Regions from separate parts of the Homo sapiens genome. Here all the other regions are linked to region 1. The links come from fine-mapping of genetic effects on gene expression. A gene starts in region 1. Each other region holds a variant in brackets. All regions are shown on one strand. Distances are from middle to middle. Region 1 holds the start of MINAR1 (membrane integral NOTCH2 associated receptor 1). Region 2 overlaps ANKRD34C-AS1 (ANKRD34C antisense RNA 1). Region 3 has its middle 120 kb from the start of MINAR1. Region 4 overlaps MINAR1 (membrane integral NOTCH2 associated receptor 1).

Evidence for each region. PIP is the estimated chance that this variant, and not a neighbour inherited with it, causes the effect. A credible set is the group of variants that fine-mapping cannot tell apart.
Region 2: its variant is the best candidate, but not a certain one, in a credible set for the expression of MINAR1 in tibial artery (GTEx, PIP 0.54).
Region 3: its variant is the best candidate, but not a certain one, in a credible set for the expression of MINAR1 in adrenal gland (GTEx, PIP 0.74).
Region 4: its variant is the best candidate, but not a certain one, in a credible set for the expression of MINAR1 in pancreas (GTEx, PIP 0.71).

What each region holds. Positions count from the first base shown.
Region 1 is chr15:79,428,250-79,436,717 of GRCh38, reverse strand. It overlaps MINAR1 (membrane integral NOTCH2 associated receptor 1), which reads right to left and starts at 4,382. Exons shown (of 4, transcript NM_015206.3): 1 at 4,178-4,382.
Region 2 is chr15:79,229,882-79,238,349 of GRCh38, reverse strand. All of the region lies in intron 1 of ANKRD34C-AS1 (ANKRD34C antisense RNA 1), which reads left to right. It also overlaps the pseudogene HNRNPCP3. Among named protein-coding and RNA genes, the nearest start is that of MIR184, 24 kb to the right of the region's middle. The variant G/A (reference allele first, on the strand shown) is at 4,260.
Region 3 is chr15:79,544,618-79,553,085 of GRCh38, reverse strand. No RefSeq gene overlaps it. Among named protein-coding and RNA genes, the nearest start is that of MINAR1, 120 kb to the right of the region's middle. The variant C/T (reference allele first, on the strand shown) is at 3,850.
Region 4 is chr15:79,463,632-79,467,631 of GRCh38, reverse strand. All of the region lies in intron 3 of MINAR1 (membrane integral NOTCH2 associated receptor 1), which reads right to left. It overlaps LOC105370918 (a long non-coding RNA gene), which reads left to right. Exons shown (of 4, transcript XR_007064729.1): 3 at 575-2,867; 4 at 3,393-3,794. Among named protein-coding and RNA genes, the nearest start is that of MINAR1, 33 kb to the right of the region's middle. RefSeq lists an enhancer at 2,602-3,801. The variant ATTAG/G (reference allele first, on the strand shown) is at 2,193.

The sequences.
Region 1 (8,468 bases):
ATTAAATGACATGCATGCGTATGCATGGAGTCTATTGAGCAGGTAGTTCTCTAACTTGGACAATGAAGGATACATTGGCATGTCACAGTCCTATGACACAGTCATTCAATTCATTCCACCAACTCCCCTGGCTTTCATTCTTGGCTCACAAAGCACCTTCTGTTTATTATCCGGCTTTTAATGGACAATTCTGTCCAATCACTGAACACATTTATCAGCTTCACTTGCTTCTCTCTAAACTATGAAATCAGCATATTATAGCCAGTGCATCAGACTTTCGGTTTTCATGTTCCTTCTCTAAAAGACTAACCTGAGTATATTACCAAATAAGCTCTCCAACCAGGCAAAATGACAGCCGCATGCCACGATGTGGTGCTCATACACAGGTCCTGATCCCCATGAAGCCCTGTCTCAGCAAGGACTGGCCTTCCTGGATAACACTGCTATCCTGATCAGCAGCCAGTATGATCCTAAGTTCTTTACATGTTGCATCAGTCACGTATGCTAGGTTACACTGCAGCAACAAATAATCCCCAGATTTCAGTTTGTTTATTATCAATGCTACATGTCCATTATGCGTCAGCAAGAAGCTCTGCTCCACATCATCCTCAATCCCAGACCCAGGCTGAGGGAGGAGCAGCCACTTTCTGGAGACTTAACTACCACTGAAACAGAGGAAAAGGGAGAACATGGTGAGGCACCTGCTGACTCTTAAAGGTTCATGTACTTTCTGGCCAAACAAGTCACATGGCCATACCTGATTTCAAATTAACAGGAAAATGCAATCTTACCATGTGCCCAGAAGCAGAGACAGCCAGAATCTTTAAGAACAAAATTAATAGCCACCATATATATGCTTCTATCCCCTCTTGGGGCAATCCATTCCCAGTATTAACTTTAATTATTTTAAAGGACTTCCTACAATAAGCCAAAATCTGTCTGTGCCAGGCACTAGAGATATAGCAACAAATAAATCAAAGTCCCTGCTCTCCTAAGATTTCCACCATAGTGTATCATCCACCAGTCTTTGGTCTGCCAGAATAACTTTACTCCCTCTTCATTTCTTAATCCATTCAATAAGCATTCACTAAGCACCTACTTACATGCCAGGCACTGTGTGAGACTCAGAAGGTCCAGGGCTGAAAAAGTTATGGTCCTCCCAGAGCTGACATTGTAGGGGTTTAGCTAGCCATCCAGGAGGATCAGTTACAGGTACATGACTATTTATAACACTGAGCTAGGTGACCACAACATTTCATTGGAAACATTCAGAGAGGGAATATGCCATATTGCAGAGAGAAGCTTCCAGTGATTCTCAAACTGAATTCTGAAAAGCCTGTAGGGGTTCCAAAGGGTTCTTCAGACACCACACTGAGAGTGAACTGGCTGCTATGTCCCTCCCTTGCTCTTAATCTGTTTTGCGTATTTTTTTTTTTTTTTTGAGACGGATTTTTGTTCTTGTTGCCCAGGCTGGAGTGCAATGGCATGATCTCGGCTCACCGCAACCTCTGCCTCCCAGGTTCAAGCGATTCTCCTACCTCAGCCTCCCGAGTAGCTGGGATTACAGGCATGCACCGCCATGCCTGGCTAATTTTTTGTATTTTTAGTAAAGACAGGGTTTCTCCATGTTGGTCAGGCTGGTCTTGAACTCCCGACCTCAGGTGATCCACCCGCTTCGGCCTCCTAAAGTGCTGGGATTACAGGCATGGGCCACAGCTCCCGGCCACTTACCTTTTATAAAAGATTTAATTTAAAGGGTTCTACTCTTCGAGAGAGAAGGGGAAAAAGAGGGGAAACAAATCCATGATCTAGTCTGATACTCTCTCATTTTACACATGTGAAAACAAGCATGCATTAAAGTTACATAATTTACCAAGGTCATATAGTGAGTTTGAAGCATGCCTAGGTAGGAAGCCAACTGTCTCTGCCTGTCTTAAGCTTCATAGCCTTCTTTTCTTTTTTTGAAATTTACACCAAGTCTGCAGAGGAAGCTCCAAAAACAAAGATTTGAATGTCTGTCAGTGGGAAAAGCTAATCAGTGGGATTCAGCAATAGATTCACTGAGGAATCTAGAACCTTTTCCTAGCTAGTTTGAGAATGCATATTACCACCTGGCTGGAGCAGAGAGCAGGGCCTTCCCCTGCCTTCTCCTGGCCTTTAAATCCCTGCCCAGCAGGCACAGAGCCATAACTGCAACAATGGCTTCTGCTGCACGTTTGTCAAGATTTGAGAAAGGGCTCATTTTGGGAATCCTGAGTGAGAAAATTCCCAGATCAGTTCTGTGCGTCTGCTGTGAATAGAGGCAGGAGAGATATTTCAACCTCACAGGAGCACGACTGTTTCAGACAGAGTATCAGAGAGTTCATAAATATGATGGGTTTTAGAAAGTGGAAAGACATCAATTTTGCCTGGAGCATTGGCCAGAAAAAAAATCGCATTATGTATCTAAAATTCAAAAGGAACATAACACCAACAACAAAACCTTTTGTCTGCCTTCCAAATGTTAAGTGCTATACACTTCCTCACCAAACTCATCAGAAATTCAAATAAACTGTTTGATCTATTCTTTCTCTGGCAACTGACATTTATTTTCACATACTCCCTGATCTATGCAAGTCTCTCAGACACACACAATAAAAATCAGACTTTATTTATCAGACATTTAAGGTTTTTCCCTCCAGGCTCCAGTAGCCTGAGAAAATCTCTAAGTTTGCCCTCTCTGCAGACTCACCACCGTCTCCTGCTCTACCCTCCTCTGATACACAAGAGGAAAACCCATTAAAGGGTATTGTACAACTCCAGGCATCCTACTCTCTCTAATCCACTTCTCTTATTTCAACAATACCCAAAATATTGCCGCCGGGCTCTCAATGAGGGTCAATTCAAAAGACATCCTGTGGCCACAGCAGTGAGCTAGCTTCCACCTGCAGGGCGGGCCCAGTAATGCTGGTGTCTGAGAAATGACAAGGAAGGGCCATTTACCGTCCCTCTCCATCAGAGAGAGGTAGCAGTGGCAGCTCGTTTGCTGGAATAAAGGATGCATAACTGGCCACATAAGCTGCTTCCACACTCCTCCTAGCAACTCTTCATGCCATGCATAATATCACAGAGCATAAAATTGCAGAGCCCAGCAATGAGGCCTCCAACCACAGCCTCAGGGATGGCGGCATGGTTCTACCACCTCCCAACCACATGGCTCCATCCACAAGAGAAATGGGTGAGAAGCCTTTAAGATAGATGTACATTGTTTATAGCAGAAACTCTGGATTTTTCCTCTCCTTAGATCTTCACCAAACATAACTTAATTCCCGCTGAATTAAGCGCACCTGAACACAACCTTATCTTCCCTGCTGCTTAACACAGGCTACCAGCCGCTTACCACAGTAACAATCTTCCAGCAAAACAATGCTGGAGTGCGCGCTGTGAGAGTTAGGCTACTCAAATGTTACGCTCCCCGCACCGCCGGCGAGGGGACAAATGACTACTCTGATGGATTCGGTAGCCCAAGGAAATTATCGCTTTCGGAGGGATGGCGGCAGAGCAGGTCGGGCATGCTGCATTTGCCTGAGTTGGACCGCGTGTGAGCGAGCTTACGCTCCCCGCGGGCCAGGCCCAGCTCCCGTGCTTTCTGACAGGTGAAGTTGAGCATCCTTATCAAACCCTCGGGAAGAACAACGATCCCATTCCACATCAACGTGACTGGAAATCTCAATTTAAGAATTGGATGCACCGGTCGGTCCACCTGGGGCTTGTCCAGCTTTCCATCTTACTTCGCGCCTCTGATGTGTCAGGCTTTTTGCACAGATAGCTCACATATTTAACCCTCAAAACACCGTTTCCTGAAGCGATGCTCAACCAGGAAAACTTGCCCCAAACTGCATGATCATCTTCCGTGGCTTCTCTTCCCGAATCCCTGCTCTGTCCACCAGGTGCGGCCCCGCCCCGCATCCGCACACACCTTTTCCGCCGCTGCCCTGAGCGCAGCGACAAGGGCCCCCACACCTCCGCGGCCCGCAATGCTCCGGGGCCAAGCCGAGGCAGGGAGGCGCTCCCGCAGCTCCTGACTTTACAACCCGCGCGCGTGTGCACCGAGCCGCGGGCACACCGCGAACACACACACACACACACACACTCGTGCGCTCCCGCCCTCCGCCCGGCCCGGGCTCTCCGAACTTACCTCCGAGGCGCCCCGGGCGCAGGGCCCGCCCTTCTCTGCGGGTCTCCAGCGGCTGTTCGGCAGTGGTCCGCACGGCCTCCGATGCCGCGCCTCCGGTAGGCTCCAGAGTCAGCTGGTCACTGTCACCCGGCAGCCCGGATTCCGCGCCCAGGGTTGCACCCCGCGGATGGAGCGACTTTCGCCTCCGCCGCCCGAGTCCAGGTCTGCGCTCACACGCGCGGCGCTCACACGCGCGGCGCCCACCTGGCTGCAGTCCCGGCCAGGGCCAGCGCGCCGCGGCTGAAGGGGGCGCTCGGACTCCTCTGGGGCGGCGCGCAGCCGGGACAGTCTCGCATGACGCCCGCGCTCCAGCGGCCCCGGGACGCGGCCTCACCCTCAACCCCTGGCGGTCTCAGCCTCGGTCTTTGTGTCTCGGTCGGCGTCGCCACGTCATGGGCTTGCAGGCTGGGAGCAGCGCGGGCCGGGAACGCGGCTGGGGAGAGCTGGGCTGGGCTTCTCCACCGCCGCCCGCCCGGGGCGCTCAAGCTGGCGGGGCGCACGGGCAGCAACTGAGCGCACCCTGGGGGACCGAGGGGGCGGTCCCGGGGAGGGGCGCGGCGTCGCGCCAAGGGGGTGCCCTGCCAGAGGCTGCGGCGGAGGAAAGTGGGAGTCAGAGCGCCGCCGGAGCCCCGGGAAGGCGGTGTCCGTTCGGTCCCAGGTCGCGGCTGCAGCGCCGAGGGGAAAGCGAGCGGAAGCTGCGCGCTGGAGGGAGCCCACCACCCGGAGCCACCCGCGGGGTTCGCGTCTCCCCACTCCCCTATGCTGAAGGTGACTGCGGCCCCCAGTGGCAAGCAGGGGCGAAGAGTGTCCTCGGCTCTCCTCTTCCCAGGGAGCACTCGGGGCTTCGGACTCTGCAGTGGTTTGCAAGGCCAGGGCCAAGTGGTCACTTCACTCACTGATTTCTTCTTTTGGCTGGTGTCGGCTTAATTGGGATCCAGATTGGAAAGACTGTCACGTGACCACCCCTCCCTGTTTCTCTCCCCCCCCACACACACACACATACTCACTCATTCACACACCCCCAAACCCCACGAAACTGGGATGGGTTTCCAAAAGCTTACTGGATACATGGATCAGAAATGGAGGCCTTCCGTGTCACCCTGTGTGCTGGAGTGGAGCCGAAACACAGCAGCTGCCTCTGGTGGCCCCATCTAGACAGATCCTGTCCCTGTGGCTGGGGAAGCTCACGTTAACAGCACTTTGCATCCCCAAGACAAGAACAACACAAACAAAAAGGGTGAGGGAGGGAATCATAGTTTCGGGGCCATGGAATCTCATTTCAAAAGGAAAGCAACACCCCCACCCCCACCACCCCACCTCCTTCCCTGCCACCGAGTTACCGAACAGAGCTGCTAAGGAGCATACCTCCCCAGGGACAGAGCCCTCTCGGGGGCTGTGGCGGCTTTTCCCTGGCCAGCTTCTCCCTGACATTTGCTACCTGTGATCGGAGCAAAGGCCCTGGGGGGACGCAGATCTCAGTCTCAGCCTCCCTCAGCTGTCTGGATGTGGGTGGCAACAACGCTTTAAAAGTGAACTTGCAGCTAGTCCCAAGATTCATTATCTGATTCTATTTTTTGGTGCATGTTCAAATTTTACCTAATAAAAAGTTTTTTAAAAACAAAACAAGCAAACAAAAGTGAACTTGCTAATAAATGGATACTTTAAATAACGCCCTATCAGGGTGATACGTGTTGACAACTAGATTTTCCCAGAGCTCCTCTCTGCCCAAGTTTTTAAAATCCATTTGCCTTTATTACCTTATTGTGAGGCAAGTTCAAACCTATTCTAGTAAGGGCAAACGGATTTGAAAATGTAAAGTAGGAGTGAAGTTTGTTTGATTCACTGTACCTTGCCTAGTGATTTTAAATTTGTAAGTAGTGCTGGCTCTGTCTTTGGGTCCCAATATTGTTTGTGGCAAAAGGGAGCATAAGCTTAAGGAGTAAAGGGGGTCCCCAGGGTAAGAAGCCTGTTTGGTAATAGCTAAAGACTGTTTGGGGGCCTCATTGTCCTTTGAGTTCAGGGGCAGATTATTTGAGACCTGAACAAGTATATATTTCTCCCAAAACCGAGAACAGTTGAATCCACATGGAACAATTAGGACAGGAAGCTGCGTGGGATCTGCCTTTTCTTTTGCTTTGAGTTCTTCTTTCCTGTTTTTTCTCCTGTTTCTTCATGAAATACTACCACAGAGACCACATTCTAGAAGGAAAAACCATAGCTTCCTGAAACTCAGATTCAGTAAAAATCTGCTTTTCCCTCCCTTAGTTCAGCTGAGGTCGGCTAGAGGTTTATTTAATTTCTTTCTGAAATAACCCTTTTGGAAAACAACTTTTAAAATTTGAAACAGCATAAAAGGAAAATGCAGATTAGAGCTTTCTGATCCTACAGTTACTCAGTTCCAGCCAGAGTTGGCTAGTGGTGTTTACAGACACAAAGGATTCAAGTGGTTGCCCTTTTCCCCTCCTGGCTACTGATTTCTGTAAGCCTGCCCCAGAAGCCCTCATTCAAGCCTTGGGAGGTATTCCTCTCACTTGTGGCCACTCACCCCTCCCCAAGTGGACACAGATACAGTAACACCTCAGCCAGGTGCTGTCTCCTCCTATGCCCCCCTCTCTGGGAAGAGGCTGGAACTTGGACTCCCTCTCCCGTTGCACACACGCACAGTGGACATCTTTGTGCACAGCCCATCTTCCCCACCTGGGGAAAAGTGAAGGTTATTTGTCTGCACTACTCACTGCACCAGAGTGATACTAAATTATATTCACCATTTATCTATGGACCCAAGGCATTCAGTTTGCAGGGGCTGGGGGATGACGCGAATTCATGGCACCACCCTCCCAGGATAAGTAGTTTAAAAAAATGTTTTGGTCTGGGCAATAGAAAGAGACTGACGATGAGATGGGAGACTGTGCACCAGATCACGAAGACAAGAATAGAATAAGCATCCAGAAACTATCCAGCCTCCACATTTTCCTCTGTTTCTAGTGGTGTCCCACTCAGATCCGAAATTTCACTTCATAATATCATTGGCAATGGTGTGAAAACCCAATGTGGTGTAAAAGAAACAGCCTTGAGTTTGGAATGTGAAGACATGGTTTTAGACATTTGATAAGTGATATAAACCACCTATGTGAACTTGGACAAATCACTTGACCTGGTTTTGGTCCTCTAGCATTTAAATGGAGGGTTCTACTTAAATTTAATATTTGAACCCAGAAACATGGACGGTTTCCATCTTACAGGATCGGAGGTTGATTATGAAACCTAATAAATTGATGAGGTCCATGTGATCCAGTCTCAATAAGTGTCCTATTCAATGAAACATAGTCCAGCAGCCAAGAGAAATGTATCATTAATCAAATCCTTCATTTGAACTTCTTAGAGACTAACATCCTCCTCTCTCTCTAAGCCCTTCTTATCTCAGCTGCTTTAAAGCTCCTCTTTCTCCAGTGCCCCCCAAATTCTCTCTAAATACATAACACACATCTTTCTTCATCTCTCCTTTCCTACCTCCTCTCTACTTTTCTGCATTGTGTAGAGCTATGCATTTTCTCTCTCCTGTCTTTAGGGGAGGGAAGGGGAAAGGAAAACTGTGGGCAAAATCAGAATTCTCTTTAGTGATAGAGGTAGGGGAGAAGACTGTGACCACTGACACATTAATACTTTTTAATCCATCATAATCAGATCTCCTGTGGTACATTTTAGATGTATTGAACTATTAGAAAAGGGCACTGGATATAGCATCATTATATAAAGATTTTGTCTCCAGCTCACCTACTATCTAGGTAAACTTGAGATAGTTTCTTAACCTCTCTTGAGCTTCAGTTTTATCATCTATAAAAGTGTAATAAGAGATTTCATAGAGTTTTTGGGAAGATGAGATAAATGGAAAGTGGAAGCCTCATAACAGGTATTCCGCAAAAGTTTGTGACTGAAAATGGCAGGCTGAAAGAAAAAACAAAAGGAAGGAAGAAAAGGGAGGGAAGGAGGGAAGGAGGAAGGAGGGAGGGAGGGGGAAGAAAGGAGGGAAAGAGGGAGGGAAGGAGGGAGGGAGGAAAGGGGAAGAAAGGAAGGAAAGAATGAAGGAAGGAGGGAGGGAGGGAGAGAGGGAGAGGAGGGAGGGAAGGGGAAGAAAGAAGAAAAGGAGGCAAGGAGGGATGGGGGAGGTAGAGGAGGGAGGGAGGAAGGAAGGGAGAGAAGAAGGAAGGAGGGAGGGAGGGAGAGAGGGAGAAGAAAGGAAGGAGGGAAGGAG
Region 2 (8,468 bases), 200 kb after region 1:
CAGAATTCAGAAGGTAACTGTGGCTATAAATAGTAATTAAAAAGACAAAATAGAAGAAAGCAGGGGTTCCATTTTCCAGCTGTTGCAATTTTCCTGAAATCTTAATGTTTTTGAGCCTCTCCTATTTAAAGACAAAACAATTTAGCACACAACAAAAACTTCAAAAAGGGTGCCAGCTGGACCACAAAGCACTGATGAAAAGGCAGAGAGGCTATACTTCCCAAACTTTCATTAGGATGTAAAAGCCATTTTGAAAAACAATCTCCACTCTCTGTCAAGTTATTTGACTCCTCAATGCAACATGCATCTCAATGAAATAGAATTTGAGTAGTGTTATGTTGGTATGCATAATGATTATGACTTCAAGAAAAATATATCTAGTACGTTCTGGGGGTTTTGTGGAGGACTCTGTAAAACAAAGAGTTTGAAGTAAACAATAATAAAATACAAAAATTTAAAAAACAGGGTTTTTTTTTCCTCCAAATTCCTGGTTTAATAAGGACCTGTTTATTTTGAGGAAAAAAAGTTCCCAAACATCAAGCTGTTCACAAAAATAACACACAGTATCAACTTTAGAAAACAAATCTTAAGACTATAACACTCATTATTTTTCTAGAGGATGCATTTGACATGCCAACTCTCATTCACAAAAATACATTGTTACATTTGTGTTGAACTGCCCCACACAGCACACTAATGTGGGGGTGTAACACACATACTTCTAATCAAAGCTGCTTTCAGGAGCTACTCAACTAAATAAGCTTGCCTTTGCAGTCAGGGAAGCAACTACTGAACTTATGTATGAATGAAAAGAACTGTCCTCCCTGCATAACAAGAGATTATTTTGGAGACAGTTGATAAAAACCATACATCCTTTTTATTAAGTCATAAAGAGGTATCAAAATTAAAAGCAAATATTACAAGGTAAGACTTAACAAAACTACTAAGAGTGCCAAAGGAAGTGAAAATGGGACTAGGCGCAGGGCAATATGAATTAATAAACATGGGAAGGACAAGGATGGGAAGGACAGTGAGCATGTGCCAAAGATACTAGGTGAGAGGCTCTGGTGAAAAATTTGATCTTAGACAAGTGCCTAGGTAAAGAAATAATGGAATAAGATTTCTAAACCCCACTATGTGCTTAAGAGTCATCCATGCCATTGGTGCTGTCTCTGTCATCCTCTCCTTCCTCAGCCTCTTTTTCATCATCCTTGATCAACTCCAGCTGGTCATCCCCCCATCCTCATTATCATCATCATCCAGTAGGTCCCCCTTCTCAGCACAGTCATCTGCACGCCCCTCAGACTCCATCTTCACATTAGTCTCATCTTTTTCACGGAGCTGCTGCTCTGCTCCTCTTCTGACTTATCATTCCTCATCTCTACTGCGTGTTTGCTCTGTTCCTTTTCAATTTTTTCCAGGTTTTCCAGGAGAGAATCCACTTTTTGTTTTATCTGGGTCAACTCCTTCATAATGGCCTGAAGGTCATCTCCTCTCAACTTTCCAGACTTGGAAGATCCCTGCTGTCCACTCTTAGAATTGAGGCCACTTTTGCCCCTTCATGAGGTGTTTCCTGATACACGCTGACGTTTTGAGAGCACTACAGCCCAAGCAATAGGAGGAGGAGGAGGCACACGTGCTGAGTAACTGTACATCGTGTCATCATAATCACCTTGATAGTCATAGCCCAAGTGAAAAGAGGAGCTATACATCTCCACTGCAGATCGTTTCACGCCTGCTTTTCCACGGTTCACTTTTGGCTCTGCAGCCAGGTTAATATCTAAAACCTGGCCAGCAATCATTCTATCATCCTCTCCTGCTCCAGCAGCCCGGGCATTTCTCTCACTAAAATATTGAACAAAGGCAAAGCCCTTATGAACAGCACAGCCCATTTTGCCATACTTCGAAAAGATTGCCTCCACATCAGATTTCTTGACCACAAGAGTGTTGAGATTCCCAATGAACACATGGGAGTTCATGGAGCAAGGATTTGTCTTGTTGGTAACGTTGCTGGCCATTGTGTTTGCTGATAAGGTTTCTCACAAAGCTGAAAACAGGAGGGGGAGGGAGAAGAGATTCGATTCTGAGTCTCCTACTCCCGGGTTCTACATGGAGAAGCCAACTGCTGCTCAAGGTCACCAACACGGCCACAACCACTCAGTCTTCGTCTCTTCACAAAAAAATCAATAGTAGGTTTTTTTCCTCACCTGTGTAACATCTTGTCACTCCAGATAAACACCACCATCCCTGAGCTGGACTTGACCCAAGTTCCCTGGTCACATCTCCATGGCTTCCAAGTAGATGACAGCATCCTGGCTGGGCTATCAGGTCCCAGGATGCAATGATATTACAGAAATAGTTCCTGTGGCCCCATAAGTCTACAGGATTGAGGCTGCTTCTCACCTCTGTCTCCTTCCAAATTGGCTCTGGAACAGGGATAGGCTGTAATATATAGATGGGACCCTCAGAACCTCTACCTGAGGGGTTCAGGGGAGCCAGAGGCAGGTAACACCAGGCAGGATCCTCCTTGAATTCATCCTTTATGCCTTTAACAAAGTAACCAAGCACATGCTCTAGCGATAATCAATTTAGGCACATCCCACAGATTCCAGCTTCTCTGCCACCAACCACCAGGCATGATCTAAGCAAGCTCTTTCACCTCTTGGAGCCTTAATTTTCTCATCTACAAAATGGAATAACGCGATCATCCTTGAAGGTGAGTTACATGTGATCATGGGTGTGAGCAGCTCTTTGTAAGCAATGAAGGCCCAAGCAATTGGAAGGGGTGGTGATCATGGAACTGTCAAAGGTACATTTGTTGCTGTGAAAAACTGAAGGTACTGGACCATTTTCTCATCTTTCTACAGGTTGCTGGAATCACAACTTATAATTAATGCACAGTGATATGGCTTGACCCAGTTTCCTAAATTGGAATGTTTCAGCTAAAACTGATGAAAAATTCTTGTCTTCCAAGCAGAACTAGCTAGATGAACCCCCTCCAGAGCTAGTGAGTAAATATATACAGTGAAATATATATATATAAATACATTCACTTATTCAACAAATATTGATTGAATGTCTACTCTGCACCATTTATTAAGCTTGGTGTTTTTCCTGACTTGTCTCATGTAATCTCCACATGAATTCTGTGAGGTAGACATTGTTATCCTGATGTACAACTGAGGAAACTAACAGGGATTCGATTATTGGATCAAAGCCATACACCTAGAAAGTGGCAGACAGACAGTGAAACCCATTTCCTTGACCCAGTGAACCTGCTCTTCTGTGACACCACATGACTTCGGCAGGCCCCTCATAAAAGGGGTGCCAGGGTTATGTCTGGGCAGATGGGATTGTATATTAGTTCACTCTCCCGCTGCTATAAGGACATACCCGAGACTGGGTAATTTATAAAGGAAAGAGATTTAATTGACTCACAGTTCCACAGGGCTGGGGAGGCCTCAGGAAACTTGCAATCACGGTGGAAGGTGAAGAAAACACATTCTTCTTCACATGGTGGCAGCAAGAAGAAGTGCTGGGCAAAAGGGGGGGAAAAAACCCTTATAAAACCATCAGATCTATGAGAACTAACTCACTATCACGAGAACAGGATGGGGGAAAACTGTCCCCATGATTCAATTATTTCCACCTGGTCCCTCCCACAACACATGGGGATTATGGGAATTACAATTCAAGATGAGATTTGGGTAGGGACACAGTTAAACCATATGAGATTGGATGTTTAAGGAGCAAGTCAGGTGGATGACAAATTCTGGCTCATATGTGTCCCCCAGTTCTCCATCAAATATCCAGCCTTCCCTGGGACCCAGCAGCTCATCCTCCCTCTGCTTCAGCCAGCTCCCTGGGTGCCCCCATGGCCCCTGGAATGTATTTACTGCCTTTCACCCTTGCTAGGCTCACCAAGTTCATACCACTGGGTTGCTGCATCGCCCTCAACCTTGGTTCTATCTTGTTCCTCTTCCCACCATCCCAGGCCCCTCTAGGACTGGACTGGCACTGGGGCTTCATCTTCTGAACTGGGCAGCCACGCCTCCCCTGCACCCTGACTCGTTGGCAGTCATTGGGCAGCCCAGGATGAGAGTCAGACAGATTGAGGCTCTTCTGATTGCTCCCTATTTGAATTTGAGAAAATAACTTGATTTTTCAAGCCACAGTTTCCATATCTGAGAGTAGAGAGTAATGGCTGTCTCACAGGGCTGCTGTAGGGATGAAATGAGAAAGATACTAACGTTTTTGAC[G/A]TCTGGGAGTCACTCCCCAAGCGCTCTCTTTCACTTCTCCTACACTTCCAAAGAAGTATGGCAAATGGTAAATTGTGTACTATGTAACCTTTTTTCCCTATGATTTATCATCTTTATTTATCTTTAATTTCGGTGAGCAGAATTAGATTCGGTGAATCTAATTCCTTTTTCAAATTCAATCCTCAGTATTTCAACATGATTTATTAAATTTTCCTTCCATATTGCTTACTGACGTTCAGCTCTTCACACGTTATAGCCACCTTTCATATAATTTGATCTAATTCTGTGTCCTTTTTGTATGATTTATATACAGTTTTCTCTTTATGACTGCACTTCAGCTGTTTTTATCACTATTGCTTTAAAACAGGTTTTTGTGAAAGGCAGATAAATCTTCCCTACCTCTCCTCCCCTAACCCCTGTCAGAATTGTTTCTTATTCTTGGCCATTTATTCTCCCGGGCATACTATTCTGTCAAGTTTCAAGAGAGGTATTGGAGATTTAGATTAGGATTTACTGGGCTACATAGAGGATATAAAGGCTAGCACTTAGTTTCAGGAATTTGTGTCTAAATCCCATGAGCCTTGAAATCTCAAGTGCTTGGCCACACACACACATACACACACACACACACACACACACACACACGCACAGCCGCCTCTGCTGCCTTCTTGCTTTCCCAATACTTCCCCACTGACAAAGTATAGAAAGAAGGCAGTAAAAAATGACAGTCACCTGCCAGGCCTGGCTCCTATTGAAAGTTACTGCGATTAAGCTGGAAATTTGTCTAGATTTAGAGGGGATCCCAAGAGCCTCGGAGTCCAGACTGCTCTGCCCATTCCGCATTACACTGACATTTGACTAATCCCGTGGTTCTCTAACTCGAGTTTGCCAACCAGCAGCATTAACAGCACCTGGGAACTTGTTAGAACTACAACTTATTGGGTACCACTCAGGCCTACTGAATCAGAAATTCTGGGTATACGGCTCAGTAATCTGAGTTTTAACAAGCCTCCAGGTGATTCTGGTGCATGCTCAAATTTGAGAACCACTGGATTAAACAAGCAGAGATTTACTCAAAGGCTACCTCCACCTGGAATTACCGGACCTGGTAGTCTGGTCAGCTGCATAGAAGCAACTTGGAACCGTGCTGCAAATGTACAACAGTGCTGCAAAACCAGACACACGGCAATAGGACCACACGTGACCTATAAATGGATGTGAGGAGAATCAGTATCTTAACACTATTGTTCCCCCTTGCCAGGAGACTGCAATTCTCTATTTATTTTGGTCTCCTTTAGGAATCAAAAGTAGTACGGCTTTCTCTACCTGGGTCACAAACATCCTGCACTGGGTTTATTCCAAAGTAGTTAATACACTTTGTTACTGTGAATGCAATCTCTTTAGCTGTAAATTTCCTAATTGATTATGCCTGGTATTCATCCTGTATCCTGGACATTTGTGGGCAATTAGTCATTTTTCTAACCTCTTTATTTCTTGTCTTTTTTTTTTTTTGAGACAGAGTCTCGCTCTGTTGCCCAGGATGGACTGCAGTGACGTGATCTCAGCTCACTGTCAGCTCCACCTCCCAGGTTCACGCCATTCTCCTGCCTCAGACTCCCGAGTAGCTGGGACTACAGGCACCCACCACCACACCTGGCTATTTTTTTGTATTTTTAGTAGAGACGGGGTTTCACTGTGTTGTACTGTGTTAGCCAGGATGGTCTTGATCTCCTGACCTCGTGATCCGCCCGCCTCGGCCTCCCAAAGTACTGGGATTACAGGCATGAGCCACTGTGCCTGGCCTCTTGTCATTTTTAACAGCCGATTTGTCTGTCTTTTCAGGTTGTCTTTTAGCAGTATTAGTACTTGCTAACTATTTGTGCCTACTATTTACTACATGCATGTCTGCTTCAGGTAATAGCTGGGAAAGCGGATCTTGCTTAACAAAGGATGATGGGGAAGGGCATTTTAGGGGCCAGCTTGTGCTGGAACACATTCCCACCTGTCTACCTACCTGGCCTCAACTCAGCCTTCATGATTCACCTGGCAGGCCTTCTTTCGGCCCACAGTCCCCTGGGAGGATATGTCTCCTAGTGTTTTTTATCATACTCTTAAGGCTGTAAAAATTCACCTTTGTTCTTATCCAAGTTTTAAAATTTGTTTGCAGAGTTATGCGAACTACTCTGTAATCATTCTTTTAATTTAGCTTTAATGGTTTCATTTTTATATTTAACTCTTGGATCCATATGGAATTTATTTGCACATGAAGAATGAGGTAAGAAATCCAATTTTTCCCCCTTCAAATAACTAACCAGTTTTCTCAACACCGTTTATGGAATAACCCATCCTTGCTGATAAATTTAACGATGCCATTTTAATCAAATACTCAATTCCCATATGTGCTTGAATTCATTTTTGGACTCTCTATTTTCTTACACTGGTCTCTTAGTTTATTTCTGCCCTAAAATTATATTGTATTAAATATCTGTAGCTTTAAACAATGTTTTTGTTTTGTCTTTGTTTTTGTATTTTATTGTGTGGGTTATGACAATGTTTTGATACCTGATAGTATCATAGTCATGTTCATTATTCTTATTTTTTAATTTTTTTTCTGATTCCAATTATGTGTTCATTCTACCAGATAAAATTTAGTTTAACTTACCAAATTTCAAACAAAATTCTCTTGGTAATTGGATTGGAAACACACTGAATTTAGAGATTACATTCAGAAATTGAAACTGCTCTATTGAGTACTCTTCTAAAGAAAATCAAGGGAGGTTTTCACTGACTGAATTATTTTTTCTGGCTTTTAATAGGAATTTAAAGTTTTTAGCATAGGGCCCTAACATTGATTATTAGATTTGTCCCTAAATATTTAGTTTGTTTCTATTGTAAAAGGCATCTTTTCTTCTGATATGGTTTGTGTGTTTGTCCCCTCCGAATCTCATGTTGAAATGTAATACCTAAGTGTTGGAGGAGGGTCCTGGTGAGAGGTAATTGTATTATGGGGGCAGATCCTCACGAATGGCTTAGCACCCACCATCCCCTTGGCGATGAGTGAGTGAGTTCTTCCTCTGAGTTCATGCGAGATCCAGCTGTTTAGAAGTGTGTGGCCCCTCCCCTCTCTCTCTCTCTTGCTTCTGCTCTCACCATGTGACACCACTGGCTCCCCTTCACCATCAGCCATGATGTAAGCTCCCTGAGGCCTGCCCAAAAGACAAGCAGATGCTGGTGCCAGGCTTCTTGTACAGCCTGCAGAACTGTGAGACAATTAAACCTCTTTTCTTTATAACTTCCCAGCTTCCGGTATTTCTTTATAGTAATGCAAGAATGGACTAACACATCTTTTGTTAAATTTTCTAACTGGTTACTAATAATGAAGGTTTGATTTTTGATATAAATTTATAACCAGGTGCTTTTTCCTTTCTAAATTTTTTACCTCTTATGTCTTTCTCATGTATGATAATAGGAGTTCTTATTTCTGACTTTAATGGGAATGCTTTTGGCTTTTTACATTAAGTTGTGATTGTTTGGGGTGGAGGATTATAAATTTTTGTAATGCTAAGGAAGTATCTATTTTATTAATTTTTTTAAAAACCTAAAATGAAGATTGAGCAATGGCAAATGAGTTCTTTGGCATCAGATTTTCTAGTATTGAGCCATGCTTACATTCTTGGGCTTTATTTATCTTTGTGTATCTTTCTTTTAGTGTCTTATGCTTTCTCTCTGCTGATATTTTATTTAGGATTTTTGCATTGGTTGTCATAATTGAGATTAATCTGTAAATTCTTCTTTTTTCCCTTCTTTTTTCTATCTTTCATTTGTATCAGAGTTTGGTATAGTGTGGTGTAAGATTCTCCCATCTCTGGCAACAGTTTAAGAAGCACCATAGAGCTTGGTACTGTGGCTCATGCCTGTGATCCCAGTACTTTGGGAGGCTTGATGGGGGTGGATCACTTGAGGTCAGGAGTTCAAGACCAGCCTGGCCAACATGGAGAAAGCCTGTCCCTACTAAAAATACAAAAATTAGCAGGCTGTAAATATGGAGGCTGTGACGTTTAAGATCAAGAAGCTGGCATTGGTTTCTGGTGAGGGCTGCTGTCTGTTTCCAAGATGGCGCCTGTTGCTGTGTCCTCATATGGCAGAAGGCAGAAAGGCAAGGGGATGTTCCCTTCAACCTCAAGCCCTTTTATAAGGGTCCTAATCTCA
Region 3 (8,468 bases), 120 kb before region 1:
GAACTAAATGTTCCAAAGTTGCAGAGCTGTGTGTGTTGAAATGGAGCTGCAAACCCAGGTTCACCTGACCTGAGATATAGGGCTTGTAGTCCCTGCATTCTACTGCCTTCTTCTTTTTTTCCCCTTCTCATTCCATTATTTCTCGTTTCCATTTTTTGCTGGTATTATTTCATTTCTTCTATTTTCTCCAGATGGGATTTGTTTTCAGTTCATTCTCACTTCTTGCTTTCATTGCCTCACTCTCTTGCTCTCGTGTTTTACACACAGTAGCGTGTAGGATGTTATTTTTAGTTTCTATATATTTGAGTTTTTTTCTCTTTAACATATATTATGAATGTTTAGTTCATTGCATTTTGATCTGAAAATATTAGCTGTAAAAATTCTGCCATAAGGTACTCACCAGTGTTTTCTTTATGATTTAGCATATGATGATTTTTTGCTTACAGACCGACTACATATACTTTAAAAGAAAAAGTAATCCATATTTTTGCATTACAAGATTTGAAATAAGTCTAGTAGATGTACTGTTTTTATTGTGTCATCTATTTTTTTCTAGCTCCTCATTTCTAAATACTTGGGTCTGTAATAGCCTGATAACAGTAAATTATATTCTTATACCCAAGCATGTTTTTGTTTGATTTCTTATGTATTTTTACAGTTTTTGCTTTATACACTTGCAAATCTTATGTAAAGTTTTTACTTTTAAGCACTATGCTGTCCAGAATTAATCCTGCTGTTCTTTGATTTGAATTCAGCTGGCATATTTGGGTCCAATAATTCATTTCTAAACTTTTATTACCCTTCTGCCACTGAAGCAGAAGCAGATCTTATGGACAACTTAACACTAACTTTTAAAAATTATAATCTTTACATAGCTTGGGACAGGCCACTTATATCCATTTTCATAACCACCATGCTGTCACTTCACTTTATGTCTTCTTGTCCTCTGTCGTCTCTTTTGATTTTTGATGTATAGTTCAATAAATGACTATGTTTTACTTTGTTTTCTGTCTAAAGATTTTTTTTTTTTTTTTTTTGAGACTGAGTCTCGTTCTGTCTCCCAGGCTGGAGTGCAGTGGTGCGATCTTGGCTCACTTCAACCTCCACCTCCCGCGTTCAAGTGATTCTCCTGCCTCAACCTCCTGAGTAGCTGGGACTACAGGTATGTGCCACCACGCCCAGCTAATTTTTGTATTTTTATTAGAGACAGAGTTTTACCATGTTGACCAGGATGGTCTTGATCTCCTGACCTCGTAATCTGCCCGCCTCGGCCTCCCAAAGTGCTGGGATTACAGGTGTGAGCCACTGCGCCCGGCCTAAAGACGTATTTTTAAGAGGTTACTCTCTAATTTTAAAATAAAAATATTTATGATCAATTTATGAGACACTCCACTAACATTCTTAAAGCTATAATCCTCATTTTTAAACTTTCCAGACAAAGACAACTTTTAACCCTCCTTCATAACTGCTGAGAGATATTAGAGGTTTTGCTACTTTTCCTTCTTCCTTCTTTCCCCTCCCATTCTTCATTGATACAATTTGAGTTTTGATCCCACTTTATCTTTTCCCATCCTTTTTAGTTCTGGTTATTTGTAGCTTGTTTTTGAGCCACAGCTTTAGTTAATAAAATCAATTCTCAACAGTTAATTCTATTTTCTCCTGTTCTATTATTACCTTATCCTTGACATTCTTCTTGACATTGATGACTTTTTAAAGTGAGCAGATGGTCACATAGGCATCCCCAGGTGTTTTTCCATTTCCAATTTCCCGCTTTCCTCTTTATTTTTGAGAGTGTTCACCACAGAGTGGGTTCCTGTGAGGTTTATCACTTAAGGGTGGATGGTTGTAAAGTGAAATACTGTAGACCTCACTAAGAAGTAACTCACTAAGAAGCACTCTCGGAGAACATCCTAATTCTTAAAGTATTGTAAAAGCATCACTCCATTTTCTTCTATCATTGCTTTTACATTTGGTAGAGAAAAATTGAAGAAAGAAATGATGACTTCTATTCAGCACTGTTACCGACTGGATCATGTCGCCTTAAAATTCACAGGCTGAATCCCTAACCCCCAGTGTAACTGTATTTGGGGATAGGGCCTTAAAGATGTAATAGAGGTGCAGTGAGGTCCTAAGAGTGGGCCCTAATCCAGCATGACTGCTGTCCATATAAGAAGAAGAAGAGACGCCAGGAGTGTGTGTGGACTGAGAAAGACCCACAGCAAGAAGGGCACTGTCTATTAAGCCAGGAAGAGAGGCTCACCAGAAACCACCCTGCTGTCACCTTGATCTTGGCCTTCCAACCTCCAGAACCAGGAGAAAATAAATTTCTGTTGCTTAAGCCACCCAGTAAGTGATATTTTGCCATGGCAGCCCTAGAAAACGAATTCAAGCACTTACTCTGTGCCAAGAGCTGTACAAAATGTTTAATCCCTGACAACAACCCTATGTGGTATTTTTACTGTAGTGTCGTGAATGAGGAAATTGAACCTTGAAGTGGCTTGCTCAGGTCAACAGCTTGTAATTGATGAAGCTAGAATTGAAACCAAAATCTTTCTGATTCCAAATCACGTGCTTTTCCTTCTGTCACTGCCTCCTAGTAAATTCAGATTCTAGTTCCTTTAAGTGGAATCTGGTCTTGCTTCTTTGCAGAGTGTGAAACGTTATTTCAGTTGTTCACGCTGTTCCTCACATCAGTTGGCATCAATCCTGGAAATCCACTCACTCTGAGCATCCACAGAGCATGAACCCCACCCCCGTGCCTCTGTGTAGATGTTTTCTTTCCCTCCTCTAGGTCTAGTTGCTGCTAGCTTTCTTCAGATCACAATTTTTGCTCCATCTGTGCGATGGAGTCATTCCTGATTCCCATTATTCTATATTATACTCATAACACTTTGTGTTCCCTTTCTTCCTTCTCCTTCCTTCCTCCCTTCCTTTCACAAGTGGATAATTGTGTGTTCATTTATGTAATTATTTTAATACTGTCTCCCCCACTGATCTGTAAACTCCATGGGAATATGGACTCTGTTTTCCTGATCACTGGGAACACACAGCCTGACCTGCAGCAGGCATGCATAGACATCTGTAGAATACAGCAGCAAAGGAACAAATGACTCTAGGAGCCTCCTTCTCCCAACCAGCCTTATTTGGAAGATATGCCTCAATCTCACTGCAGGAAGTGCCCTCCTGAATTACCCAGAGACAGATCTCCAAGTGTTGCACCTAGAAGGTGGAGGACAAGTACCAAACCTGGAGTCCTGGGCCTCAACTTGAGACATAGCACTCTCTCTTCCCAGATGGGTGAGAAACTTAAATTCTCTGGCCCTCAGTCTTTCCATGTAGAAAAGAAATGAGTTGGACCAGGTGTTCCCCATGGTTCTAGAGGTCCACACATTCTGTGATTCTGTGCCATCATTGGGCACAGCCCCTCCTGTTACAATGGGGGATTAGGAATTCTAAGAGGACTCATCCCATCTTCAGATAATTACGGAACACAGATGGTAGACTGGGACCTCTGGGTTCCTCAGAGCACATGGGGCCACTGGAGCAGTAGCTGGGCTTCATTGAGTCAGAAGTCCAGGGAAGGAGGATCCTGAAGCCTGGGTCAAATCTGTAGGCAAGAGCAGGATGGTGCAACCCACCCTTTGATGTTTATTGGGCAACAGGCTTTCTTTTCTTCATCATCACCTCCCCTGTCCAGGCCAAGTGTGTCCCTGGGCTTCAAAGACTATCCTGCTGTGACTCAGCACGCCTGCCACCTTGAAGCATTGGCAAGAGCATGGAGACAGAGGTGTGGCTCCTGCAAAATTATGTTGCTCAGGAAGGGAAGCTTCGTAAATTCTGAAATCTCTG[C/T]CAACATGGGATAATTAGGTCATACAATGGCTAATGAATTTCATGCAGATAATTGCAATTTAAGGCACATTGAAAAAACAATTTAAAGTCCTGATACACATCAATGGCTTCTGATTCCTTGGGAATGGTCTCGAGATGAAGAGGTCTGCTCTGTGCTTTAATACAAAAGGTATTTTATGTCTCAGAGCAAGGGGGTGCCGGGTGGGGTCCTTTAAGGCATCTGCTTGCCAAGAATGAGTCCACATCCTCCTCTTCCCCTTGCTTTTGCCAAATGCACAAACAAGGTCGTTGGTTGATAATGAGCAAGAGATAATTCACTGGAATGAAGGCTCCACAAATCAATAAGACATATGTTCTAATGCAGTATACACTTAACTTCAGGGACCAGCTTTAAAATACAGCTTGCTAGTTTGTAAAGCCAAAGCTAGTCTTAAAGGGAACAGGAGCCCAGGTCTTAGAGCCTGTAGAGCAATAATTTGAAACCCTTTATAGACCACAACAGACAAAAAGAGGAATGTGAAGACCCTAGGATCCCTGTTTCTAAAATCAGGGCTAACTCTTTGGAAATGCGACAATGTGTTATGGGGGTCCCAGGGCCAAGTCACACTTTCCACCAGAATGGAACTTATCTGAGTAAGTCCTGACTTACCTCTTAGCTACTTAACCGGTCACTGAATATCTAGTAGAAGCGATGCACAGAGCAGACCGGTAAGAGGATTTAAGCTACAGGTCTGTATTGTTTGACCTGTGCAGGGAAACTTCAAGTGAGAATCCCATTTTCTATCTTTTTTTTTTTTAGATGGAGTTTCACTCTTGTCACCCAGGCTGGAGTGCAATGGCATGATCTCAGCTCATTGTAACCTCCGTGTCCCAGGTTCAAATGATTCTCCTGCCTCAGAGTCCTGATTAGCTGGGATTACAGGCGCACGCCACCACACGCAGCTACTTTTGTATTTTTAGTAGAGACAGGGTTTCACCATGTTGGCCAGGCTGGTCTCTGACTCCTGACCTCAGGTAATCCGCCTGCCTTGGCTTCCCAAAGTGCTGGGATTACAGGCATGAGCTACCACGCCCAGCTGAGAATCACATTTTCTAGATTCTTTTGAACAATCAGAGGGTCTAGCCACAATTGGCCTGTGTTCTTACATGCCAGTAATCATGAGGGCCTAAGGAGCTGCTCTCTTTAGATGGGCAGGTGATCTCCTGATCTCTGCATCCCACGACTCTAGGTTGTCTTCTTTCATTGAGGCCGCCTCCTTGGTCCCAGCAGGCATTTGGATTTGAGTTCTCTAGTCTACCTGTGCAGGTACTGAGCTGGAAGTGAGATCTAAAGATGAAATCTGATGAAGTATGTTGGATACAAATAATCTCTTCATTTACACAACAATCTGTAAGCATCTATTCTGTGCCAGGCTGTGTGCCGGTGCTGAGAATATGAAGATGGAAAGTCCTCACTGAGTGTTCTTAAGAGCTTACCATCTCTAGGGGGAGATAGACATGTACACAGATGGACTGAAATACAAAGTGATTGCTACAGTTACCCAGAGAACATGGATATGAAATGGTTAAACTTTAGTGTCCTGACCACTCTAGTCTGAAGAATGGTTAATGGTGTTCTATAGGTAGGCCTTGGGCTGAGCAATTGGGAATCAATGTTAGTGCTGACCGTAAGCAAGAAATGACTTTTCCTATTAAGGGGCTGAAAGAGCCTTCTCATTGGTTTAGCAGGCTATTAAAACAGCTGCAAAAGGTTGCCTGGCCACAGAGAATGCGTGCTGCAGCATTATGTAGCTGTTTTAGGACTTTATAAAGAAAGATGCGAGATACTGTTTGCATTTGGAGCAAAGCGTGAATACAGACTAAGGCTTAAATATCATGCTTCTTTATGCTTTTAAAACTCTTTTGAGCTGTTATAAGAGATAGTCCTTTTAATGTTACTATGCTATGTGATAGCCAATGGTGAGGGAATGGAAGTCTCTCTAGAAGAGACTGAGGAAAGGCCGGGAACCAGGGTTTTTGAGAAGTCTGCCCCTATTTATTTTTAGTAAATATCAAGAGGTAGCCTAAGCCTAGTTAGAGTTAAACCTGTCTTTGGATAAAGAAGTCTTATTACTGAAATACTGGATTTTTAATATACTAGTTCATTATTTGGTATTCTGTATACCCCTTCAAGCAGTTGTTTCCCACTCACAACAAACTATACAATTCTGGATGCTAAAACTTAGGGATATTCTCTTTGCATAAATTTTGGCTCCATTCTGTCCATAACAATCTAATTGACCAAAACTGGGAGTTCTCAAGTGAATGCAAAAGGAGCAGGCCATAACTTTATTTGTTATAGAGACCATCAGAAACTTGAGATCTTTTGGCCTATGATAATACCATTTATTTTTTGCATTGCTTCACAGTTTGCCATGTGTTTTTACATCATCTCATTTGATCTCAAACAGCTTGACAGAGCAACTGCTATTGAAATATTACACATGGGAAGAATGAGCCTCAGGGAAGTTAAATGACTTGACCAAGATCTGCTCATAGTCGCGAGTATTTTTTTTCAGAGCTTGTAATGTCTCATATTTAGTCCTTTGCTATCCATGTTGATTTGCTTTTGTCTGTTTCCTCATTATTGAAGTATATACTTTAAATATATACCTTAAGATATCAAAATATCATAGAGAAACATTTGAACTATAATCAGGAAATATGTTTAAAGATATATATTGCCATACGAAACTTAACATTTAAAACCGATAATATCTGTAATGACATCAGAATGAAAGAAAAAAAGTTGTACAGTGTATATTCCTTTGTTTTGAATCCAAATCTTTTTCATAGGTAATGGCAGATGCCTTAATGTGAAGCTTATTTATAATAGTAGTAAACCTAACTGGATTTAGGTGAAGAAGTCTTAATACTGGAAAAAAAAAAATCAGAGTTCTAGGGCAAAAATCAGAAGCACGAGTGCAGGTGAGATCGCATGGGAGGAGAACACTGCGGGGCTCACAAGAGAATCAGACTGGCCCGGCCTAGGGATGTCTCCAGCTAAGCTGACTCTGGGCTCCCACCATAACCAAGTCAGACTGAGCATTTGATCCCTGTTTGTATACCATGGGAATAGCAGCATAATGCTACAGCTCATGCTCTCTAACAGACCATCCTTAGCAGCTTTCTTCCTGTTTTAATATCTATGCTATGCCTATTTTTTTGTAGGATGTTCACACATTTTGTTGTCTTTTTCATTAAGTTCTGACTGTAAAACATGACCCAAATGGTGTTGTAAACAGATGGCTTGCCTGAACATATGCTTAGAATTAAGATTGTGGTACCTGGTGGAAAAAGAAAGCAAGAGTTAAGGCTCACCATTGCAAGATACTATCATGTTGCCATTTGCTTCCATTTGTATCTGGGCAGGTTACATGGTGTGCCACAATGGAACTAGGGGTGAAGTGTGTGAGAGCCCAGAGGAAGGAATATCTGAATTTTCCTGGGAGAGTCAGGGTGGGTCTCACCAAGGAAGGAACCCTGGGGCCAACACTTGAAGGAGAAAAAAACCTGTGGGATAGATAAATGCTACTGGGACAGGTGAAGGAGGGGGGTAGTCTTTGAATTTGGCCTTGAAGGGTGTAAACACTTTGACCAAGCAAAAATGAGGAGGAAAGGACATCCCAGTGGGGAGGAAAAGCATGCAAAAATTGGAGTAGGCGCAAAATAGTGGAGGTTTACAGGAAATCAGCACTAAGGCCCTGAATAGCAGATTAATGCCAGGCCAGTGCCACGGAAAATCGGAAGGTGTTCATTGATGAGTATGGTGCTATGAAATGAGTGGTTTGATGAACAGAACTCTGTCTTAGAAACATATGCCCATCAGTGGAGTTCAAGGTGAGTTTATGGAGGAGAAACTGGCAACAGTGATCTTTAGCTACCTCCTTCCTCTCTGAGGTTCAGCTCTGTAATTCGAGAAACACAGGATTTTGGTGGCAGGGTCATTGTCAAGATTGTCAAAAATGTGTATAATGCACACTGCAGGGTGCCCAGCACCTGGCATATAGTAGCTGCTCAGCAAACAGCCTCTCCCTCTCCTCTCTGTTCCCATGAGCCACGTGTCAAACTGGATCCTGGCTGTCCCAGCTCCCAGGTTATGCAGGGCTACAGGCAAGCTTCATTTTAGCTGCTAAAAGGTAGTGATGGGCTGAGGTGCCAATAATGTTTTTTTTTTATGCTAAAGACTACACATGTAAGAATGATCCTTCTTGCATTCTGACACCTTGATGACATCTCATTTATTTATAGCTTTAGCTAATTAACAGTTACCAAATGTCAGCATGCATACAACTAAAATATTCTATTATTTCAGTGTCTCTTTTCAGATTACTATGCTGTGTGGATAATTTTTCATTTGCAGGCAAGATAAAAATGAAACAAACTTTACAAGAAGATCCTTAGGGAACCTTGCTGGTAGCTGGGATTATGACATTCTCCATTTCTCGTCTCTGGCCATGGTGAAATTAGTTGTGCTCTGTTACTCTTGGCTTTCCTGATCTTAAAAGTCACTTAAGCCCTGTGAGCTTCTAGATCTTTAAAGGATAATTTTCTCCCCTTCTGTAAGAGAGTTGTGAAGA
Region 4 (4,000 bases), 33 kb before region 1:
TGCTCAAAGTCAAGGTCTACCAACCCCATGGCAGACTGTTCCCACCCTAGACCTGCCTTGGCAATAGTTTCAGACTCGGTGCAGCTTCCCCAAAGAGAGAGCCCCCACTGACATTTGTCTGCTGATCTCCCTGAGGTTAATCAACTGTCATCAGGAGAAATACCATATTTAACTTGTATTTTCCGTGAATCCTATTCCACGTTGACAGTTATAATCTATTTCCATGAAGAAAGGCAGTGTTCTCATTTTATGGCAAGCATTTAATAATATGAGTGTCACATAAAAGCAACAGCACATTGCAATTCGAAGTGAGGTCATTTAAGTCTTTGAAATGCAAACAAAATATCCATTTTTAAGATTTTCTTAGATTGTTTAATGCTCATAAACATGGGCACATTAAAAATTATTCATACACATATACAAACACAGGCTCAAAAAACAAACCTTTCAAAGTTTTAAAAAACTCAGTTGTACCATTTATTGATGGAACAGTGATGATTCTAATGCATGCTAGTAATTCTCTGCCTGACCTTCTAGATTCATTCTCTTTTTTCATCTTGCTCTGTGCCCCTAGGAATATAACGTACATGGACACGTCATGGGGGCTCCCCTGCCCTCAAGCTCCCATGGGGGTTCAGCCAATGAAGACAAGAAGAAAGAGAGATTGAGGTATTTATTCCCCCAGCTCCCTCCTGGCTGGGCTGTAGTTTGGCAGTGGCCCAGCTCCTATTGGACACCTGCTCTCAGAGCTGTGGGTCTCAGTGGGTTTCAGAAACAGCCCCTTTCCCTTGGCCCTTCAGATCCAAGGGTGGCAACAGCTTCCTACTGGTGCTGGTCTCTGGGTGCTTCACCAGCTATTGTAAAGAGTCCCCTCCTTAGCTACCCCTTTGAGAATGTCACCTGCCTGCTGCCAGGACACTGACAACCCGCAGGCCCTGCACCCCTCAGGCTTTATTATCTACCTGTTGCTCATAGTTGTCTAGCACAGGGGTAGACACACTATGGCCTGCAGGCCGTATCTGACCTGCCACCTGTCTTTGTACAACCCTTGAACTACGAGTGATTTTTAGTGATTTTTTTCCATTTTTAAATGGTTGAAAAAAAATCAAAAGAATATTTTATGACATATGAAAATTATATGAAATGCAAATCTCAGTGTCCAAAAATAAAGATTTATGGGAACACAGCCACTCCTATTTGTTTCCAAATTGTCTATAGCTGCTTTCACACTACAATGGCAGATTGTACAATGGGAGATTATAAGGCCCACAAGGCCTAAAGGATTTACTATCTGGTCCTTTACAGAGAAAGTTTGCCAGCCCCCGTTCTAGAACATGCTATGCGACACTACAATGGAAAGAGAAGGGGATCTAGGCATCACAGAAAATCTTCCTGGTCCCTTCCCTCGCCGAGGCATAATGTTTAGAGACTGCTGTTTAATTTCTCAAGTTACATGGAAGGGTGGGAGGTGGTCCTGGACACTCAGGGCACCCAAAATAGAAACCAAGACACTCTCAATGTGGGGAAAAGTCCCTATTGTGCAGAGTGCTCTGTCCAACCCTTCAGCCTTTGCAAGAAACTCCTGCATCCTCTGCTAGAGCCCCAGAAGCCTCTTCCCTGAGCTTCCCAGAGCAGTTCCACTGCTGCTGAACCCTGACTGTTGGACCGCCTCTTCCTCCTGCTTGAGCCACCAAAGCTCTGCTTGCCACAGGCCCTTGGGGCCAGTCTGCTCTCCTTGGCATGAAAACATGAACACCCTTCAGCAGTTTAATAGGCACTAAAGGGCATATTTTGCTGGAAGACTGGTCTGCAGAAGTGGCTGAGGCACCCCTAAAGGCTGGGTGCTGGTGGGGGTCAGACCAGCAGCCCTCCCTACCCTGGCACCTGGAAGTCAGGCTCAGCACACTATGGGTAGAACAACCTGCTCTTCTTCTCAGTCATCCTAGGGCTGGCCCAGAAGCCAAACAGTGTCTAAATGACACATCAGATTTTGTACTTTATTCCCTCCGGCTCAGACAGAAGGAAATTGGCTTTCTTTCATAGCTATATACACTATTACGGGCTGGGATTCAGTGTGTGAAATAAACTATTTTTAATTAGTTTTTTCAATAACTGTAAGCTGTAATCGCACCAAGTAGAAAAGAGGTAATACTGAGGTTTCAAGGGACACAGGTGAGTGTATGCAGTTATTA[ATTAG/G]CCCTGGCAAACACTGGAAAGAAGAACGGGGTCTGCACCTTTGCCTACGCCCTCAAGTGGGCACCACTGATGGTGAATGTATATCTCAACACAAAGGAACTCCGGGAAGATTGTCCAGACACCAACACTGCCCTAAGACTGTACTCGAGTCTGCAAAGAGATGAAAAGAAAAAAGGTTGTGCTTACTGCCTTCACCAAGCTCTCAAGGTTGGCTCTTTTTTGCTGTAAACACCCTCACACGGCTATTGAACTCTCTACTTCCTCATATTTTATGCAACTGGATACTCTCTCCTTTGGATTTTTAAGTAATGTCACCTAAAGCTCTGTAACCCCAATATCTATTTTTAATTTTTATAATTTTATCTTTATGCTTATAAACACTGGTGCAGTAAAAGCTCACATATCTGTAGGGGGTAAATCTTCCAGCTCCCTCCCTGCAAACTTTGCAAAGATGTTTCTCAGCCTATGGCTCACTTAATTAATCTAACTCTTTCAAGGTCATCCAGTGATACTGATGAAATATTCCACCGGAGGGAGAATCATGAAATATTCCACCGGAGGGAGAATCAAATCCCTGTCTAGCCTCCTTGCCCGCAGGAAGTTGACAGAAGAGGGATTGACCTGAAGGATCAAGGGGTATGCAGTCCAAGTGGGAATGTAACATGCATGAGGTAAGGGGGTGAGGAAGGGCTTAGGGTTGCTACTGATGCCCCCACAACCCTCACTGTCAGGGTCTGGACAGAGCTGCCCCTTCCCATAATTGCTGTCATTTAAGGCCCAAGATAAAGAAATGTCATTGCAATCATTTTCTTTTGTAACATAAAACTCCACTAAACCCTTAACAAGAGAAAAATGAAATGGCAAGAAAATTGCAGAAGAGAAAGACCATGAGACTTATTGCCAGATGGTCCAGTATGAATTTAGACTTGTCTGACCTGGGGCAAATTATCGAGCTTCCTGGGGCCTCGATTTCCTCATTTGTAAACTGAAGATGGTCATAGCAATTCCGGCCTCACAGGCCACTGTGCCTGGAACTGAGAGACTGTAAAAAGCACCATGCAAAGTTGATTGATTTCAGCATCATTGACCAGCCCCCAAGGGCCTTCTTTTTCAGTGCCTACTTGATGCCAGGTACTTTAAATATATTAATTCTTACAATGACTCACAAGCTTGATATTATTATGTCCATTTAACAGGTGGAGGGACTGAACCTCAATCAGATGGAGTGAATGCTTCAGGTCACACAGCGAAAGAGTCCTGGATGAAAACCCAGTGCTACCAGAAGGCAGTCTCTTCTCTCCACCACACTGTACCTCCCACAGCCCTCTTTTAGAGCAAGGCCATTTCAGGGAAGCCTTGCCATACCCGATCTCCACAGGCAGCTCTCACCAACTGTGCTTCAAGTGCATGGTCATTCCAGAGCCTGGACGGAACGGGCACTCCTGGTGCTATGGCCTCACTGCCTACAAAGCTAAGTGCACAGGTAGGGGGACAGGGTGCTTCCTTTGCTCCTGTGGTGATCTGGAGACACAGATCAACCCAGTGTGAATGGAACCAGGCAGAGCTGCCCACCAAAATAAAAGTGTGGCCAAAACCCAGCCCTGCTTGTGGGTGAACAAAAAACATGCCCTCCAGCCACAACTGCATTCACAGAGCTTCCGGGGATGGCTCTTACCTGGGGCTGCTCCGTATGGAAACATAATCCATAGCTTGGCTCCCACAAATATGCTTATCCCACGTGCTACATATGGAAGGAGAAATCAGCTTGTATTTCATTAAACAGTTTGGCTCAGGTCTTGTGAGC